Linked DNA regions of Homo sapiens: region 1 is linked to region 2. Evidence: fine-mapped expression QTL. A gene starts in region 2. The other region holds a variant in brackets. All regions are shown on one strand. Distances are between the middles of the regions.

The links.
Region 1: its variant is fine-mapped to the expression of ZNF582-DT in vagina (GTEx, PIP above 0.99).

Annotation. Positions count from the first base shown.
Region 1 is chr19:56,168,645-56,171,557 of GRCh38, forward strand. No RefSeq gene overlaps it. Among named protein-coding and RNA genes, the nearest start is that of GALP, 5.9 kb to the right of the region's middle. The variant T/C (reference allele first, on the strand shown) is at 1,472.
Region 2 is chr19:56,391,832-56,394,744 of GRCh38, forward strand. It overlaps ZNF582-DT (ZNF582 divergent transcript), which reads left to right and starts at 1,845. Exons shown (of 2, transcript NR_037160.1): 1 at 1,845-2,222. It overlaps ZNF582 (zinc finger protein 582), which reads right to left and starts at 1,703. Exons shown (of 5, transcript NM_001320371.4): 1 at 1,389-1,703; 2 at 1.

The sequences.
Region 1 (2,913 bases), 220 kb before region 2:
GCCTCCCAAGTAGCTGGAATTACAGATGTGCCACCATGCCCGGTTAATTTTTTTTATTTTTAGTAGAGATGAGGGTTCGCCATGTTGAGCAGGCTAGTCCCGAACTCCTGACCTCAAGTGATCCCACGCCTCGGCCTCCCAAAGTACTGGGATTACAGGTATGAGCCTCTGCACCCCATGAGAGTAGATTTTAAATGCTTTCAGTACAAAACGATGTCTACGAGCTGGTGGATGTGTTAATTAGCCCAATTTAATAATTTTACAGTGTATACATAGATCAAAACATTATGCTGTATGCCATAAATAGATTCAATTTGTATTTGTAAATTTAAAAAAATTTTAAGAAAAAAATAAGCAAATACATAAATAAGTAAATAGACATATTTTTAAATGGTGGTCATAATAAATGTCCCTGAGAAGAGGATAGGAAGTCATCCACACGTAGCTGGCAAGAACATTCCAGGCAGAGACAATGGCAGAATGCACTCTCTTTTCCCACTCTTGTCAACATTCTACCTGCTTTTCAATTTAACTAATATCATCTGTGCACCTACAGAAAAAACAAAAGCCAGCTGGGCACGGTGGCTCACACCTGTAATCCCAGCACTTTGGGAGGCCGAGGCAGGTGGATCACGAGGTCAGGAAATCAAGACCATCCTGGCTAACACGGTGAAACCCCGTCTCTACTAGAAATACAAAAAAAAATTAGCCGGGCGCCGTGGCGGGCACCAGTAGTCCCAGCTACTCAGGAGGCTGAGGCAGGAGAATGGCGTGAACCCGGGAAGCAGAACTTGCAGTGAGTTGAGATCGTGCCACTGCAGTCCAGCCTAGGAGAAAGAGTGAGACTCCATCTCAAAAAAAAAAAAAAGAAAAAACAAAAGCCAGCTGGGCACAGTGGCTCACACCTGTAATCCCAGCACTTTGGGAGGCCAAGGCTGGCGGATCACCTGAGGTCAGGAGTTTGAGACCAGCATGGTCACCATGGTGAAAGCCTGTCTCTACTAAAAATACAAAAATTAGCCAGGCGTGGTGGTGCACACCTGTTATCCCAGCTACTCGGGAGGCTGAGGCACAGGAATCGCTTGAACCTGGGAGGTGGGGGTTGCAGTGAGCCGAGATCGAGCCACTGCACTCCCAGCCTGGGCGACAGTGTGAAACTGTGTCTCAAAAAAAGAAAAAAAAAAAAGAAAAAGAAAAAACAAAAGCCATAAAGATACAACTCAGGCTGGGCGCGGTGGCTCATGCCTGTAATGCCAGCACTTTGGGAGGCCGAGGCAGACGGATCATGAGGTCAGGAGATCAAGACCATCCTGGCTAACATGGTGAAAAACCCTGTCTCTATTACACACACACACACACAATTAGCCAGGCGTGGTGGTGGGTGCCTGTAGTCCCAGCTACTCGGGAGGCCGAGGCAGGAGAATTACTTGAACTCGGGAGGCAGGTGTTGCAGTGAGCCGAGATCCAGCCA[T/C]TGCACTCCCAGCCTGGGCAACAGAGTGAAACTGTGTCTCAAGAAAAAAAAAAAAAGAGAAGAAGAAGAAAGAAAAAACAAAAGCCAGAAAGACACAACTCAGCCCACCAACATGGGAGAGCATGTCATTTCCCACCTGGGCGCCTCCGGTGTACACTGTTTCCCGCTTTCCTTCTGATTCAAGGTCACGGGAGGCTGCTGGCTGCTTCTGCACTCTTGTTTTTGTAACTGGATGTCCGGGACCTTTGGAAGGCGAAGGCACCTGCTTATTTCATCTCCTCCCCACCGTTGTCATGGGCCAAACTCCAGGATGTCCTTCCGCCCTGGTTAGCTCCCGCCATGAGTCAGCCCTCTCCTCTCCACGTGCCCCCACTTGAACCACTCCTGTGAATGCAGCGTCAGCATCGATGATGTATTTCACATGCAGCTCTCAGCTTTGGACATTGCGTTGGCTCCCCTTCACTCTGACTCACCTTGACTCTGCACAGAAATGCTCCTGGGAGAGAACGCTGACACTTCTCTTCCTGACTGCAGATTCCCGTCCTGTGGCCGCTTCCACATCTGAATCTTTCCAATAGTGGGATTTTCAGCCTCACCCACCCATGCCTCTTTGAAAAGCTAAGAATGCAACCCCTCTTGTTCAATAATTCAGTTAGGTGTTTCTAGCACATGACCAATACTTAGGTCTTTTCCAGCCCCTCCCATGAACTTTCCCTAAAAAATGTAACTTTCTCAAGTAAAATGGGAATCTTTCTGTGGTGCTGGTGGGACTGAAAACTGGTATGTGATTGTCGAAAGGCAATCTGGATGTGTATACTAAGAATCCCAGAGGCTGGGCGTGGTGGCTCACACCTGTAATCCCAGCATTTTGAGAGGCCGAGGCAGGTGCATCACCTGAGGTCAGGAGTTCAAGACCAGCCTGGCCAACATGGTGAAACCCCATCTCTACTAAAATACAAACAAATTAGCTGGGCATGGTGGCAGGTGCCTGTAATCCCAGCTACTCAGGAGGCTGAGGCAGGAGAATTGCTTGAACCTGGGAGGCAGAGGTTGCAGTGAGCTGAGATTGTACCATTGTACTCCAGCCTAGGGAACAGAGCAAGACTCCGTCTGAAAAAAAAAAAAAAAAAAAGAATCCCAGAATGGTTATACCTTTTGACTGAGTTGCTTTTCTTCTAGGACTTAAACCTAAAGGATTCGTCAGAAATTTGTAGGAATGGCACTAAAAAGGAGTGAACTGTTGACACACACCACAGCGTGGATGAATCTCATGCACTAAGTAAAAGAAGTCAGACTGAAAAGGCTGCACACTGTAGGATCCAGTTTGTATAACATTCTGGTAAAAGCAAAACTTTGTTTTTATTTTATTTTTACTTTTGAGATGGAGTCTCGCTCTGTCACCCAGGCTGGAATGCAGTGGCATGATCTCGGCTCACTGCAAT
Region 2 (2,913 bases):
GCTGGGGGAGGAAAGAGCAAACATGAGAGGCTAGGCTTGCCTCACAGTTCCTAGAATGCCAAGTTACAAGTCCCCACCTGCTTGCCCTCTGCCCACCAAGAAAATGAGAAGGAGGGGGAGGCAAAGGGATCCTCACCCAACCCCAGGAAACCAGCTTTAGCTGCTGCAAGGCAAAGGGGAACCAGTGGTCCTTTCCCTCCCATTTCCCCTAAACATCCAGTGGTTCTGTTTTGCTGCAAATGCAAGTCTAAGACAGGGATGCTGAGGGCTGTTCTAGTGACTGAGACCCACATGTTACCTCAAGGACAAGGAGGGCTTCCCTCAAGCCAGGGAGCATAGAAGGCCTGCATCATTTGCATAGCCCCAGCCTAGAATAAAGCCTTTCCAGGACTAGGCCATTTAACTCTCTCCTGCAGCAAATATAACACCTTTGAAAGTCTACCTGGCTCTTTTCCCAACCGCCAAATATACAAAAAGCTCTACAGCCCAAACTGAGGCTTTGTGCATGCCACTTCATGGAGCATGCCTTGCATCAACAAATGGGATAGAGTTGGAAGGAACAGTAAGAGACAAATTACACACAGCACGCCCAGTGCTCCATTATCAGCACATAAATGTGTCCTTCCATAGAGACACAGCAGTGCACAAAGCTGCATGTCCAATAATATTTGCTAAATAGGAGAACTGAAAATTAGTACGTAAGTAGGCAAGTCCACAAGTAGCCAAGAGGTTGAATCATTTTTGGCACAGCCATATAATGGGATGCCAAGTGACTATCAAAAATGACTATCAAAAACTGACAAGCAAAGATATTAACTACTGAATCCTTTGAGAACATTCAGCAAAAAGAAGTCAAACTCACTAACACACAGGCTAAAAACAAAACAAAACAAAAAAATTGGAAGAAAAAACACCCAAGTATTCGCAGTGTTGTCATTTAACCAGTTCTTGAGCTCACTGTTAAACAAGAAGTACTCTGTAAAGGAGTATATAAGGTGCCTACTGCATTACAAACATTTGGTTCTAAGTAACGTGTAAGTGAAATAATTATGAATGTTGCTTAATATGATGTAATAGGCAGCTTTTCCTTATTATGACCACTTTTATAAGCATTATTTGTATTAACTGCACGATATCCTATTTACAAAGGATGGCCTGTGATCCACTCAAGTGTTTCCCCATTGCTGGACATAGAATTTGAACATATAAAATGTTCCCAAGTATAAGTTTTTCTAAACTAGCGGTTCTAAGTCTTCTGGGGTCTTGTAACTCTCTGAGAACCTCATGAAACAAGATTTCCTCTCAGATTAAAAAAAAAAAAAGGCACGCATAACAGTGAATGCAAAACATCCGCAATTTCAGGGGGTCGGAGACCCCTGCGCACCCACCTAAGGGGTCCATGCACCTGGGCTATGAGGCTGGAAGCAGAAAGGGGGCGCCAGAAAGCGCACGCCGCGAGGGCCGGCGGGAAATGTAGTCTCACGCCGGTAAAGCCACAGAGCGACGATGAGGCGAGACGTCTGCGTTCTTCTCAGGCCTGAGACCCAACCGGCCCGGGCACCAGCTCCTGCTGGACCCCAGAGCGCCTGGAAAGCTCCGGAACCTCTCACCTGCCGCCTCCTCGGGTCCAAGTGCCACCGCGGCCGCGCCCCCGGCAGCCCAGGGCGCGCTTCCACCACGGTACCGGTGGATTCGCCGTGCGCAGCCGGAAGATGGCGCAGACGCACAAAGCACACCGATGCTGCGCCATGATAGGGCCGGCGCCGCAGTGTCTTCCGGGAAACATAGTCTTTAGGCGTAAAGGCAGCAGCCCGGCCTTGAAGCCGGATCTCGCGATGTTTCAGGGTGAGCCGGACGCAGGCGTGCCTGCGCAGTGCGCGGAGGAGTGCTGTTCGTGTGTTCGAGTCCCTGGGTTGCTTCCTGGGGTCTGTGGTGCTGGGTGTGCTATCTGCGTGTGATTCTCTAGCGAGAGATTGTGGGCGAGTGACCGAGTGGGCAAGGGGCCGTCACTGTGTGTGCGTGATTTTGACAGTGTGTGGTGGTAGCTTCTGACTCCGCGTGGGTCGTTGAATGTATGACTGGGACCGTTTAGCGGTGGATACACAACTGTGTGCGGCTGTGGAAGATTGCCTCATCCGTTACGTTCCCATTTCCGTGGAACAACAGTTTTACCAGAAGGTTTCGAAGGAACCTTAAAGTTTGGAAGCGTAAGAGTTTATCTGGTAACTAATTTTAAACATTACATCTATGGTGAGTTAAATGTGGGTTATGAAGGAGAACGCAAAATAAAAACGTTATAAAGATGTAAAGGAGTTTTATGGGGCGGCATCTCTTGGGCAAATATCAGACCGCCGTAGGTAGTTGTTAATTCTCTCTTGTTTTTAGGCGGCTTTGGTGTCATCAAATGTGAGAAGCCCTGGACTTTACACATCCCGAGCCAGTGTGATCCAGTATGATTGGGAGTCCGAGTGCCAGATGCCGGTCAGGACCTGTTATGCTGGGTCTCAGAATGCGGAAACTCTCCCTGTCCGAGGTGGAACAGTTTGTCCTTGAGTGAGGACTGGAGTCCTGAGTGACTCTTTTGATTTGATCCTGTTTCCCTCAAACCTGGTGAGCTCTATGGTGTAATAAATGGTTAAGAGTGTGAACCCTTAACCATCTCTAAGACTGGAGCCAGAATGCCTGAACTCCAGTCTTAGAGATGTGCCTCGGTCTCCACATTTGAAAGTGAGGATGATTGTGGCATCTAATTCATTGAGTTGTTGGGGAGGAGTAACTGATATGTAAAATAATGCTACTGCTGCTGGATAAGGATGCTAATATGACTGAAGCTAATGCTTTCTTTCTGCAAAGATGCTTTTTCCAAAACACACCATATTGCCTCTTTACACATTCTTCAGGAGAGGGTAGAGG